Linked DNA regions of Homo sapiens. The protein of the gene in region 1 interacts with the protein of each later gene in a pairwise test. Each region holds a gene or a part of one and is shown on either strand. Other genes may lie near its edges.

Region 1 (7,272 bases):
ACACGGCAGGGAGCACATTTCACTGGGACCAAGAGCCACTGGCTGCAAAAGGCCACCTGGAGGTTCCCGGCAATAGGAAGGAGTCAGGGTCTTTGACTCAGACAGCATGGGGAAGCCAGCAGTGCCCACACAGAGCCCAGTGCCCAGGGAGCAGCATTCTTCCACAGCAGGAGGCAGGAGGCACACAAACCCAGCAAGAGGTTGCAGTGGGCTGAGTACAACTTCCTGTCCCCACCCCTGGGGCTGTGGGAGTTAGTGGCCTCCGGATGTCCCTGAGAGCCTAGCAGGGAAGTGGAAATGGCTGAAGCTGATGCTTGCCTATCAACTGGTTCCTACAAGACTTCCAGAAGCATCTGACACGAACCTGCTGCCTGCCGTCAGAGAAAAGCCATGGCGGGGGCCTCGCAGCACAAAACCCAGGCGCCTGGCCCACACAAACTGAGACTCTGCTGCAGATGGAGTCAAATGTCCCCTGGTATCTCCAGGCCCCTAGAGAAGAGGTTCAACAAATGCTGCCGGATAAGAACAAAGCCAAACTTTCTGCCATCTGGGTTCTGCCCTTTTCTTACTACCTCTGAAGCACCTCCCAAGTTTCCTGACGCCACTGTACAAAGCCAGCCAATGTCACTGCCCAAGGGAGAGCTTGGAAGTGTGTTTGGCCTGGCTGGGGATGGTGTCAGTGCCTGTCCCTCTAACCAGACCAGGGAACCAAACCAGAATGGCGAGCACGGCCCTGGAGCTGAAACAGGAGGGAGGGATGATGCCTGTGATGGGCTGGGGGTGGGAGGCGGTGGCATCTTCTGCTCCCTCCCTGGGATCCAGGCACGGTGCTTCTGACAGCTGCTATTTGTCAAAGCAAAGATATCTGGGAGGAGGAGCAAAAGAGCCTTAATTCTCTAAGCCAGCTATATGCAGGTAACTCCTCAGACACACACACCATGACTCCTAAAGCCCCTGTGGGGATCTTCGGATAAGCTCATGCAGCTGCTAAGTGGTGATGACTCCCAAGCCCAAGTTTCTGCCACCCAGCGACCTGGCCCCTTTTCCTTAAAAGACCAGGCCATAAGGGTGTCTTCCCTTGGGGCTGGAAAACACCACCCGTCTCACAGGCACTTTGCATCTCCCCCTTTCTGTGAAGTGTGTGCAGAGGACCCAAGGTGGATGGAGGAACCTGGTCACTGAGTGAACAGACCAGACAGGAGAGACACACACCTGCCCTCCACCATGCCAGGCTCGAGTATTCTGCAGAGTTCTGGCAACACATCCTCAAGAGACCCTGGAACTGCTAGAAGTATGGAGGGGTGGGGAGGCTCACACAGCTGCAGACACAGATCTGCACCTGGCTGGGAGGGAAAGCCCGTGCAGCTCCGAGGCAGCAGCTGAGCACAGGAACATGCCTCTCCATCTCCACTTGTGCCTGGTGGCCATGAAGGGCCCAGAGAGAAGGAAGGTGGGAGTCAGAGGGGAAACCCCTAGCAAATGACGCACAGGCTCAGGTTCCACCCCCTGACCTCATTTCCAGCCTAGGTGCGGTGGAGTGCCTGGTCCTGCTGCCTATTCAGCATGCAGAGCTGCTGGCCCAGTCTGCCAGGGACAGGACAGGGCAGTGCCACCCATGCCAGGCCTTGTCAGCTCCCCTTTTGGGAAATCTGGGGGGCTGTGCTCTTCAGGCAACAGGGTGACCTTGAGCAGAGAGTGTAGCCTACCAGCAGCGGCCCATCCAACTGCCCAGCCCTTTGAAGTGCAATGCAATTGTTTTGGTGAGCTGGGCCACCCGCAATGAGGATAGTGGGGGCAGCCAACTAAAGCTCAGGCCTGGAGCGCTTCATACTTTCCTACTGAGGCCACTACAGCTCCCTCCCACAGTCCTCTTTCCTGTAGCCACCTGTTCCTGGTTTCCCCACTTGTGTTAGGGCCTTGCAGGCCTCCCCTAGTCGCTTTCGCTCCTCATACACCCAGCAGCGGCCAGTCTGGCAGTCAGTGCAGCCGGTCAGCAACAGCTGGACACCCTGGGTGAGCAGTCACCTGCCCCTCCTCGCCCTCCTGTAGGAGGAGTAACAGGACAGACACCTCCGCAGTCTGACTCCAGCCTGTCCAGCCTGACTCCAGCCCATCCAGCATCTAACAATGGCTCTGGGCAATGCCCCAAGCAAGGCTGGGCAAACTCCTCGGCCAGCACCCGGTTTCCCCAGGCAGGGAAAGGGTAGGGTGCTTTCATTCTGACCACAGGGTCTCTGAGAGGAGGAGACATGGGACAAAGAATTGCCTGCAGGCACAGGGCAGGCTATAGCAGGAGCCATTTCTGCTTTTCCAGGAAGCCAGGTCCTCTCACATTTTTATTTTATATTTTATTTTTTGAGACAGGGTCAAGCTCTGTTGCCTAGGCTGGAGTGCAGTGGCGTGATCAAGCTCACTGCTGCCTCAATCTCCTGGGCTCAAGTGATCCTCTCACCTCAGCCTCCTGAGAAGTTGGAACTACAGGCGCTTGCCACCATGTCAGACAAATTTTTTGTTTTTAGTAAATGGGGTCTCACTATGTTGCCCAGGCTGGTTTCAAATTCCTGAGCTCAAGCAATCTCGGTTCCCCAAAGTGTTGGGATTACAGACGTGAGCCACTGCATCCGGCCTCCCTTGCCTTTAAAAGACAGCTTGTGTGACATTTAGCATCTCAAGAGCCTTAAAGATGGGGGCAATGGCCTTTGGCAGAGGGGAGGAAGAGGGCATCATGACATAAGAAGCTGAGCATGGGCTTCTGCTCCCCCAGAACACAGCTGAGGGGAGCTCTCCTTGGTGCTGCTGGCAAATGAACCTGCCGCCCCCCAGATTCTCCCTGGGCTGAGGACCCCTAAGCTTCCAGTCAAAAGCGGGTCATCTCCACGACTCCACAGGATTACAATGCTCTTCCGTTCAGAGCATCACCAATCAGACCCCCACCTCCACGCTTGTTCTGCTAGCCCAGAGACTCGAGGGTCAAAATTTGAATGCGTATTCTTTAGGGCAAGGTCCCTCAGTCTCAGAGTCACAAACAGAGATGTTAGAAAGGGAGAGAAATTAAAAGGCCCATTCGGGTTGATCCATCTTACCCACAAAAACAAACCAACGAACCCCCTCCCTCTTATACAGTATCCTCACCTTCCAGGAAGGCGCTTAGGAGGACAGGGGGTTTAACATTCGGTGCTCTGGAGTCAACCGCCCTTCCCTGCCCCTCCAGCAGGGGCTCAGCACATTCCCAAACTTCCCCAGCCAGGTGCCTGTCCTCGGAGCACCAGGCACTAGCTGAACCAGTTAAACTAGTCTCGCCTTTCCTAAGTTGTGTTTTTTCTAAGCTAGCAGGCAGCTACTGGAGGCCTTCCAACCCACCACTCAGGCCAACCCTCATAATAAGAAAAATACTACTTTCTATCTGCCTCATTTAGGAGGTTTCTACTTTTTTCCTTTAGTGGTTAACTAAATTTCATCTTATATAACCATCATAAATTTTCTAAAAATTTCCGCAATTGGTGCCAACAACCACAGAAAGTGTGTGTGTAAATGGGAAGTCTTCAGGGGAGTGACCAGGAGTTCTAGTGAATCTTCATAAGAAAACTCTTCACTAAGAAAGCCCCGCCTCGCCCCCTTTCCAGAAAGATTCCAAGAACTCACACCTCTGACTCTTAAGTCTTTTTTTAAATTAGAAAAGGTAACATGCAGCAGGTGAGGTTGGGATGATGACAAATCATGGGGAATACATTGGAGCTCCTGAGCTTTGGCCCACGGTCTGTGCTCTCTCTGAGCTGGAGCAGGCCCTGGGCGTGCCTGGGGATGCCCACTCCACATACACCCCCGGAAGCAAATGCTCTCCTCTTACCTGGAAGGTTTAGGGTCTTCAGAAAAGACAAAGACTGAACATGAGGAGTCCATACCACATGAACAGGGTCCACAGAGGGCCGGACCATTGTTTCTGAACAAAGCACTTCACCACGTTGAGACAAAGTCCACTGGAAGGACTGGAGACAACTGGCCTCTCTTTGCCTCCAGTGGTAAAGGACTGGCTTTTGCAAAAGAGAGCCTTAGGTGTAAAGCCTCTAGTTTACACACACACACACACACACACACACACACACACACACACGTGCACACATACAGAAACACATGCACCCTTGAGGAGGTGGCCTGCCCCTCAATTCCATGACAAGGGAAAAACTAGAACCAGAACCAGAGGAGCAGTGGTCATGCCTCAGGCTGGCTGGCCAATCTCCCCTTCCTCTAAGGGGGGCCCGGCTCCCGGTGTGGTTTCTGTAGTCTTGGGTGAGGCTGCCGGTGGTGGGGTGTAGGGGGGTAAACCAACAGCGCCAGGCACTCAAGTGCTGATACAGAGGGGGACAGGGGGACACATGGTGGCGTCCCAGGCAGTTCTCTGGCAGAGGAGCTGGACAGCCTCACCTTCCCGGTTCTCCACAGGGCAGTGGGGGTAACTCTGCATTTGGGCCATGGGGGCCCAAGAGCACTCTGTCCTCCACGGCTGCTCTTGCAAAGTTCTTCCTGAGAGCCAGGTTTTCTCAGGCTGAGCCCCTCTGAGGCTTCTTTGTATTCTTCCTACAACAAACGCAGTGTCTACAGAGAACGCCCTAGCAACCCACAGGACAAACGGAGGACTTCATGAGGTCTCCACACATGTGGGAAAGAAGTGAATAGGGTTTTTGAGGCCATGGCTAGGGAGGGCTGTGAGACGCAGGGAAGGCTCCTCTCCCTCCCTGGTCCCAAGCGGAGACGGCGAACAGGGACAAAGCTGAGCCTGAGCGTCCTGACAGCATGCATGCGACAGGACTGACGCGAAGCCTGCAGCACATGTGACAACAGACTTAGAGAACTGGCAGCAGTCAGCCCAGGAGAAAGGAGGCGTTGTCCCCTGGGGAGGAAAGGGGCTTCCCAGACCACAGCTATGATGCCCAGGGGAGGGCCGTGCGGGTCCTCCCACCTGAGCATGGCCTAACAAATGCATGGAGCTGAGCCACGTGGGTAATATGCCCACCTGCATCCAGAGTCTTTTGGCTGAACAAGTAATTAAGAGAGAAGTTTTCAGGAGACCTGAGTGGACGCCATTAGTCAGTTACTTCCCAGGAAATGCTCTGAGACCATGATCCCTCCTAGGCTCATGCTTTGTAGGGGAAAGAGCCCTCTGGGAGTGAGGAGGCTGCAGGGCAGAGAAGAGTCTCCCTAGGAAACATTCTCGCTGGGCTGGTTGCGTGATCCAGTCCTCAGATGCTCTCAGAAATCCCAGAACTCTTTTTCCAACCACTACTATGACTTGAATCTGGGAAGGTGGGCCAGTACCAGGGTTGGAGTGCACTCAGATCCACTGCCTGGTCTAGTGGAAGATGCCGTTTTCTGATGAACATGGTTTGGAGACCAGACTAAACACTAAGCATGGAAAATCGAGGGTCAGCAGTGGCGTGGGCTGAGCAGCACTGAGGAGAAGTCTGTGGGCTCTGGAAAACTGCAAAAAGAAACCTATGAAGGTCTCACATCTTTCATGGCAGCTGTAACTTCCCAAGCACTGACCATGTGCCAGGCTCTGTACCAAAGGCCTTTATGTGCCATCTCTTACCCAGTTCTGACAATCCTATGAACCAAGTATTGCTATCCACATTTTACAGAGCAGAAAACTGAGGCTCCGCTAAGCTGAGCAACTTGTATAAGATTGTAGACACAGAGTGGTAGAGGGAGATTTGAACTCCCATCACCTGGACTCCAAAGCCTTATGCACAGCATGCTAGGCAGATGTTGACAGTCATTTTGTTTCCCAGAGGCGTCCTGTTAGGTTAGCTTGGGTGTTTTGAAATCCCCTGCCCTCAGGGTCCTACCCTCTGCGGTATTCACTGTTCGGCTCTGAGGCAGCCTCCAAGGTAGGAGGCAACATGGCCAGGGTGGAGCAGCAAGGTGTCCTATCCGCATTTTCAATCCCCAGAGCGTCTCTATGTCACACATAGTCCCCCGTCAAGCTCTCTGGTGTGGACTCATAGGACTAAATCAGGTGTTCGTCCGAGTTCGAACGTGACAAGGAGACGACCAGCTTCCCAGCACTCTATGCATGCCACCAGCACACAGCCCCCACCTCCCCAAGGAGGGCGGGTGCTTGCTCTGGGCCCCTCTGCTAAGCCGTGGAGGACACCTGGCTGTCTTGGGGCCTTCCACAGTCAAGGGTGAAGGAAAGGCTGCATCTCCCAGCCAAAGTCCTCAGAACTGAGTTGCAGAGAGGCAGGGGCCTAACTGAGCAGCCCGAGAGCCTTCCCAGACCTCGGACCTGACCCCTGGGCCTTCCTTCCTTGTCCCACTCCTCTTCCTCTCTGACCTGAGCAGCAAGGCTCCCAGAACAGTCCACTTCCTCACCACCACTGAGGCACACCTGCCAGAGGGCAGGGTGAAAATACTGCCCAGAACCACCCTCGACTGGAGGCTCCCACAAGGACTGGCCGGCTCCCCCGACGGATGCTCTGGAGGCTGGTGAGGCAGGCCAAGCCCTTACCGTTGTAGGAGAGGCGAGGTTTGCTCAAACACATTATAAAGTGCATTTCCATCTCGTCAGAAGCCACAGACTTGGAGCAAATGGGGCACTTGAAACCTGAAAGAGAGGAGAATGGGATGAAATGTTTTCTCCAGATCCAGTACATCCACAGTACATGTGGACACTCTCGAATGACAGCCATGTGGGCTCAGGGTCAATGTGGAGGATGACCATCAGAACAGACCCTGGACCTGTCCTCCTTCAAGGACTCATTTGAGCATCTGCCTTTTTTTTTTTTTTTTTTGAGACGAAGTCTCACTCTGTCGCCCAGGCTGGAGTGCAGTGGCACGATCTCAGTTCACTGCAACCTCTGCATCCCGGGTTCAAGCGATTCTCCTGCCTCAGCCTTCCAAGTAGCTGGGATTACAGGTGTCTGCCATGACGCCTGGCTAATTTTTGTATTTTTAGTAGAGAGGGGGTTTCACTATGGTGGCCAGGCTAGTCTTGAACTCCTGACATCAGGTGATTCACCCGCCTCGGCCTCCCAAAGTTCTGAGATTACAGGCATGAGCCACCGCGCCCGGTGGCATTTGCCTTTTATTGCAGCCTTTGACTGACTGCCAGCTTTCACTAGGGCTCACCCTGCCTTATGTGCCTCGTTAAGGTTTAACCAAGGTCACTGACACCTGACTTGAGTTTTATCTTCTTTAGACCCTTTCTCAGATGGGTCTGGTGGACAATGGGGTAGGGAGGCATCAAACCAAGGCACCTGGAAACAGCCTTTGCAT
Region 2 (7,272 bases), on another chromosome or scaffold:
CCAGCACTTCGGGAGGCCAAGGGAGGAGAATTGCTTGAGCTTAGGAGTTTGAGATCAGGCTGAGTAACATATTGAGACCCTGCCTCCACAAAAAATAAAAAATTAGCCAGGCATGATGGTGCACACCTGTAGTCCTAGCTACTCAGGAGGCTGAGGCAAGAAGATTGACTGAGCCCAGGAGTTCAAGGCTAGCAAGTTTTTTTTTTTTTTAAAGTTCTCTCAAGGCTGCAAAGACTACAGTGAGTTAATATCATGCCACTGCAGTCCAGCCTGGGCAACAGTGTGAGACCACATCTCAAAAAATACAATACAATACAATAAATACAATACAATACAATAAAAATGTTGCTAGGTGTGGTGCTCACACCCAGAATCCCAACATTTTGGGAGGCTGAGGCGGGAGGATTGCTTGAGGCCAGTTTGAGACCAGCCTAGACAACATACGGAGGCCTCCGTCTCTACAAAACTTTAACAGCTTAGCTGGCATGGTGATGCACATCTGTGGTCCCAGCTACTTAGGAGGCTGAGGTGGAAGGATCGCTTGAGCCCAAGAGGTGGAGGCTGTAGCGAGCCATGATCACACCACTGCACTGCAGCCTGAGAAATGGAACAAGATCCTGCCCAAAGAAAAAAACAGGACGGGCGCGTTAGCTCACGCCTGTAATCCCAGCACTTTGGGAGGCCGAGAAGGGCGGATCACTTGAAGTCAGCAGTTTGAAACCAGCCTGCCCAACAAGGCGAAACCCCATCTCTACTAAAACTACAAAAATTAGCCAGATGCAGTGGTGTACGTCTGTAATCCCAGCTACTTGGGAGGCCAAGGCAGGAGAATCGCTTGAACCCAGGAGGCGAAGGTTGCAGTGAGCCAAGATCACACCACTGCCCTCTAGCCCTAGCAACAGAACAAGACTCTGGCTCAAAAAAAGGAAAAAAAAAAAACCAACAAAACAAAACTATTTTTATCCCTACTGCTATCAAAGCCAAACAGCCATGAAAACCAATGTGAGATTGCTGTATCTTTGCAAGTTCAGTCTCTTATTTGCAACCAATCTTGATACCAATTATCAAACATGTCTACCTAGTAATAGTATATTCTAGAAATTAAGTATAGAAGTAAATTCTAGGAGGGCCAGAGAGCCAGGCCCTAAAGCTATATTAACCAATAAAAATGCTCAACTATACCATGACAGTTGTTTCAGCAAAAACAAAAAACACCACTTCCAGCCGGCTGTGGTGGCATGTACCTGTAGTCCTAGCTATTCGGGCAGTTGAGGTGAGAAGGCTGCTTCAGCCCAGGAGTTCTAGGACAGTCTGGGCAAAACAGCAAGATCCCACTCCAAAACAAAAAACAAAACACACAAAAAAACCAACCACTTTCACTGCTATTTAGACCTGGATATCAGAAGCCCTCCCAGAGCTGCCCCTCAGGAAGTAGACACCTTTACCACTAGGCTTGCCAGGTCAGTCCTCCTGCCCAACCTATTCACATTGCTTCCTTCTAAATCCAGATCCTGGGGCATCTGCCTGCACTCTAGCTGCAAGACAGACTGGCAGGAGTATGAGTATCATGATTTCACCAAGAAGATGGAACTCTCATGTGGGAAATTATCAAAATATAAGGAGGATATCTAAGATGCTATAGCCACAGTGATAGTTGTCCACTAGTTAGATTATCTTTACCATCTTAACATCGAACATTTTATATAAGATGCTTATGACCAATTACATTTATTTTCCCATCACCACCTCCTAATTATACTTACTGAACGGGCACATTTTTTGGGGGGACTGCTAGAAAGTCCATCCAGTTGTCCATGTTCACCCAGAAATCCCGTCACTTGGTCCAAGAAAGAAGATACATCTAACTGGTGCCATTCTACTAGCTTCTGACCTAAGGATTAAAAACCAAGATCTATAAATAAATATAATATCTAGAATCCTTCTGAACATTCTCCAGGATCTATAAATATAATACCTAGAATCCTTCTGAACACTCTCATTAAGTATCTCTTTCAGCATATGCATAGATTAAAAACCTGGATCTATAAAGGTAATATCTAGAATCTTTCTGAACATTCTTATTAAGTATCTCTTTCAGCATATGCATAGATTAAAAACCAGGATCTATAAAGGTAATATCTAGAATCTTTCTGAACATTCTCATTATCTCTTTCAGCATATGCATACATTAAAAACCAGGATCTGTAAATATAATATCTAGGATCTTTCTGAACATTCTCATTAAGTATCTCTTTCAGCACATGCATAAAGTGTACTGTAAAGACATATCCTCTCCACCAGCTTATGCTACATAGTGTCTTCATAACCTAGAAGTCACATCAATTATACTCACCTAACAGATTCCCACCCGTAATGATAGGGCAACTATCTTATCTGCTGCTATCACTTACTGCCATTTAGGAAGAAGAGATTCAGACAAAGCAATATCTATATAAAACACCATCAATTAATAAAACCAGCTCCACCCTCTGCTTCTCAGGTGGGATTACAACTAGTATCTGGGCAATCTTAATATTTTAATGATAAAAAAAACTTTTGTCTTGTTTTGTTTTTTTGAGATGGAGTCTCACTCTGTTGCCCAGGCTGGAGTGCAGTGGCGCGATCTCGGCTCACTGCAACCTCCACCTCCCGGGTTCAGGCCATTCTCCTGCCTCAGCCTCCCAAGCAGCTGGGACTACAGGTGCCCGCCACCATGCCCGGCTAATTTTTTTTGTATTTTTAGTAGAGATGGGGTTTCACCGTGTTAGCCAGGATGGTCTGGATCGCCTGACCTCATGATCCGCCCACCTCGGCCTCCCAAAGTGCTGGGATTACAGGCATGAGCCACCACGCCCAGCTGGTAAAAAAACTTTTAAAAAATCCCTTAAAAAAGGTAAGATGAACATATCAGTTATTCTTCAAAAGAACAGAACTGCACAAACATAAAATACTACCATCTCCCAATGTTGCCAGAAAAAGATGTCCTAAATACATACATCAATAGATGTTTAAATAATTATAAAGGGAAAAAAACGAAACCTTCACCTAAATTACTGCAATTCTGAAAACAGATCCAGTCAAATATTAAAGATCAATCATTTAGGTAACTGAAAGACAAGTAATAGGTTAAAAGCTGCGTGCTGATATAAATCTTACCTGTCCGTGGGTCCAATATGGAAACATAGGGGAAATCCCCTAACTTATAAAACTGTATGTATCTCTGACCTTCCTCACTGTCATGATAAACCTGTTAAATCATTGATATAAAAAAAAAAGTCAGCCTCTAAGAAAAGAACCAACTATAACCTTCTTATACACCAACATCAATTAGCTCTCCAAATATACCTCCGGCCTATGTATTAAGATCTCACTCCTACACTAAAAAGAAAATAAATCTGGTTTGAACTCCTTCAACTTCCCACTTCCAGCACTCTCTGGAAATTTACCATAAACATATTGACCCATTCCTCCTCCTTTCCCAGTTCAGATGAGGTATTATTCTTCCTGCTCAAGTTATCTGTCAACTATGTCATTCATAACTCTCAACCATATACATCTTAATAAATCACAATATATTAAGATTATGGGCCAGGCATGGTGGCTCACGCCTGTAATCCCAGCACTTTAGGAGGCCGAGGCGAGTGGATCACAAGGTCAGGAGATTGAGACCATCCTGGCCAACATGGTGAAACCCCGTCTCTACTAAAATACAAAAATTAGCCGGGCCTGGTGACAGGCGCTTGTAGTCCCAGCTACTCGGGAGACTGAAGCAGGGGAATCGCTTGAACCCGGGAGGCAGAGACTGCAGTGAGCTGAGATCGTGCCACTGCACTCCTGCCCAGCGACAATGCAAGACTTGTCTCAAAAAAAAAAAAAAAAAAAAAAGATTATGGCTCCACATGGTGGCTCGCACCTATAACCCTAGCACTTTGTAGGGCAGAGGCAGAGGACAGCTTGAGGCCAGGAGTTTGAGACCAGCCTGGGCATCTCCACGAGAAGTTTTTTTGTTTTTTTTTGTTTGTTTGTTTGTTTTTAAATTAGCCAGGTTTAATGGTGTGCACCTATAGTCCCAGCAACTCAGGAGACTGAGGTGGGAAGATCCCTTGAGCCTATAGGGGTTAGAGCCTGCAGTGAGCTATGACTGCACCACTGTGTTCCGGCCTGGGTGACAGAGCAAGACCCTGTCCATTTATTTAAAAAAAAAAAGAAAAAAGAAAAGAAAAGAAAGAAAGAAAAAAAGATTATAAGCTCAAGAGTCCAGCACAGTGCTAAGCAAAGAGCTGCTCGATCAATATTTGTTGAATAAAATACAAGGAATTTTACCATTAAAGTTACATTAAATTTAGGGGCCTGTAAAATATAAACAGGCAAATTAATAACATTAATAGCATATCTTACAGTAGGGGAAAAAATTAAGCTCCTTCATAAGTTTTTATTTTCTATAACTTTTCACAAAATAAAAAATAAAAAAATTGAGCCGGCACGGTGATTCATGCCTATAATCCCAGCACTTTGGGAAGCCAAGGGAAGCAGATGGCTTGGGCCCAGGAGTTCGAGACGAGCCTGGGCAATATGGCAGGACCCCATCTCTACAAAAAAAAAAAAAAAAAAAAAATTATATGGGCATAGTGGTGCATGTTTGTGGTCCCAACTACTCAAGAAACTGAGGTGGAAGGATCATTTGAGCCCAGGAGGTCAAGGCTGAGCCATGTTCATGCCACTGCATTGCAGCCTGGGTGACAGAGCAAAACCCTGTCTCACAGTGGGGGAAAAATGATACAAGGTCTGTAACCTTATCTCATTAGCTGGGAAGACTAAAGTGACATGTCTAAGAACACAGAGTTAAAAAGTATCAAACTCAAGCTAAAATCTAAGTCTTAGCCAAATGCTTCCAATTACCTCAAGATCTTCTATACCTGCACTGTCTAATACAGCAACCACTACCCACAAGTGGCTACTGAAGCACCTGAAATCTTGCTACTCCAAATGGAGAAGGGGTGTAAGTATAAAATACAAACCATATCTTGAAGACTCAACACCAAATAAATGCAGATCATCTCATTATTTTTGTATTAGTTATATAGATATATTGATTTAACCAAATACATTATTACAGTTAATTTCATCTATTTTGATTAATCTTTTTTAATGTGGCTACTGGAAAAATTTAAATTATGTGTACAGCTTACAATATATTTCTACTGAACAGTACAGTTTGTTTGTTTTGTTTTGTTTGAGATGGAGTCTAGCTCTATTGTTCAGGCTGGAGTGTAATGGTGTGATCTTGGCTCACTGCAGTCTCCGCTACCCGGGTTCAAGTGATTCTCCTGCCTCAGCCTCCCGAGTAGCTGGGATTACAGGTGCCTGCTGCCACACCTGGCTGATTTTTTGTATTTTTAGGAGAGACAGGGTTTCACCATGTTGGCCAGGCTGGTCTCAAACTCCTGACCTCAGGTGATCCGCCGGCCTCAGCCTCCCAAAGTGCTGGGATTATAGGCGTGAGCTACTGCCCCCAGCCGGCTTTACCTTTTTTTAAATGTCTTAATTCATTATAACCCAATTCCTTTCCCTCAACAACCCACACTACAAAAGTAAAATTCTACAAAACTTCTGATTAACTCTCCTTCTCACCTGCCAGAAAATGAAATGTTCCCGGATAATATTCTTCACAGCTTCGTTGCTCCACACATCGCGGTTGAGGCACTGACATGCAAAGTCTTGAACATTTTGAATGTTTATCATCAGCCACTTATTTTGCATCTGGCCACACTCTTTGGCCTGCAAGAGTAAAGTTACACATTTGTTAGAAATAATTTCTACTTAGTGACAGATGTTTCCGTAGTTGTTCAGAGGTTGTTGTCTTTCATTAAAAATACTAAGTTTTTGCCAGATACGACATCTAGAGTTTTCAGCATTTATACATTCTATATATTTACTTCGCATATGCATTTATAGCTATACTGTCCATTTCAAGCACTGCTCAAATTTAAATGAACTCATTTCTCTTTTATCCAGTTATTTGTTATAATAGCTGATTCTCTCTCTCTCTCTCTCTCTCTCTCCTTTCTTTCTTTCTTTCTTTTTTTTTTTTTTTTGAGACAGAGTCTAACTCTATTGCCCAGGCTAGAGTACAGTGGGGCAGTCTCGGCTCACTGCAACCTCCACCTCCTGAGTTCAAGTGATTCTCCCGCCGCAGCCTCCCAAGTAGTTGGGATTAAAGGCGTGCCCCAACACGCCTGGCTGATTTTTGTATTTTTAGTAGAGATGGGGTATCAACATGTTGGCCAGGCTGGTCTCGAACTTCTGACCTCAAATGACCCGTCCACCTTGGCCTCCCAAAGTGCTGGAATTACAGGTGTGACTCATCATGACCGGTAATGGCTGAATTTTTAATGTATGTTTAAACATCTTTACCTGAAAAGGATTCAACAAACTTAAGATCAACAAGTCACGTAATTTTATTCTCTTGCAACCTCCATCAACAATTTTTTTTTTTTTTGAGACGAGCTTTGCTCTTGTTGCCTAAGTCGGAGAACAATGGCACGATCTCGGCTCACTACAACCTCCACCTACTAGGTTCAAGTGATTCTTCTGCCTTAGCCTACCGAGTAGCTGGGATTACAGGTGTGTGCCACCATGCCTGACTAATTTTTTATATATTTTTAGTAAAGAGACGGGGTTTCACCATGTTGGCCAGGCTGGTCTCAAACTCCTGACCTCAGGTGACGCACCCATCTCAGCCTCCCAAAGTGCTGGGATTATAGGCGTGAGCCACCGCGCCCAGCCAATTATACTTCTTTTTAATGAATGCAATTGGTGTGTATATTTTACTTTGTTTTCTTCAACATCATTTCTGGAACATTTTTAAACATCATATTAATCTCAGTTATTAGGCATATATGCTGTTTTGGAGAATCACCCTAAACATTTTAGTAAAAACTGCTGAGAGTTTTTTCTCTTAAGAGTTGTCTTCCTAGGAGTAGATTCCAAAAATTGGGATTACAAGGTCAAAGAATGTTTGAGAATGATCCCCAAACAACTCTACGATTCGTACAACAGATATCGATACATCAATCGTTAGTGCGTACTTTTTGCCTGTCAGTCCCTTGTCAGCATAAAGACCCATGAAATGCTGCTGAGTGGAAAACAATGGCAGAAAAGCAAATAAGCAAATGCTGCCTCAAATCTTTGCCTAGGAAAGAACAGTGACACGAAACCACAGTTTTGGAATAAATTTATCCTAGAACAGTATTCTTTTCCAAATCAGTGTGA

Evidence for each region.
Region 2: the proteins of ZNRF1 (region 1) and UBXN7 interact in binary tests that used the Homo sapiens proteins (3 or more experiments, as listed by UniProt).

Annotation. Positions count from the first base shown.
Region 1 is NC_000016.10:75,092,901-75,100,172, reverse strand, and holds part of ZNRF1 (E3 ubiquitin-protein ligase ZNRF1), read right to left. Parts: intron 6,602-7,272; coding exon 6,506-6,601; intron 1-6,505. UniProt on the Homo sapiens protein: E3 ubiquitin-protein ligase that plays a role in different processes including cell differentiation, receptor recycling or regulation of inflammation. Mediates the ubiquitination of AKT1 and GLUL, thereby playing a role in neuron cells differentiation.
Region 2 is NC_000003.12:196,366,265-196,373,536, forward strand, and holds part of UBXN7 (UBX domain-containing protein 7), read right to left. Parts: intron 5,779-7,272; coding exon 5,632-5,778; intron 3,248-5,631; coding exon 3,157-3,247; intron 1,892-3,156; coding exon 1,764-1,891; intron 1-1,763. UniProt on the Homo sapiens protein: Ubiquitin-binding adapter that links a subset of NEDD8-associated cullin ring ligases (CRLs) to the segregase VCP/p97, to regulate turnover of their ubiquitination substrates.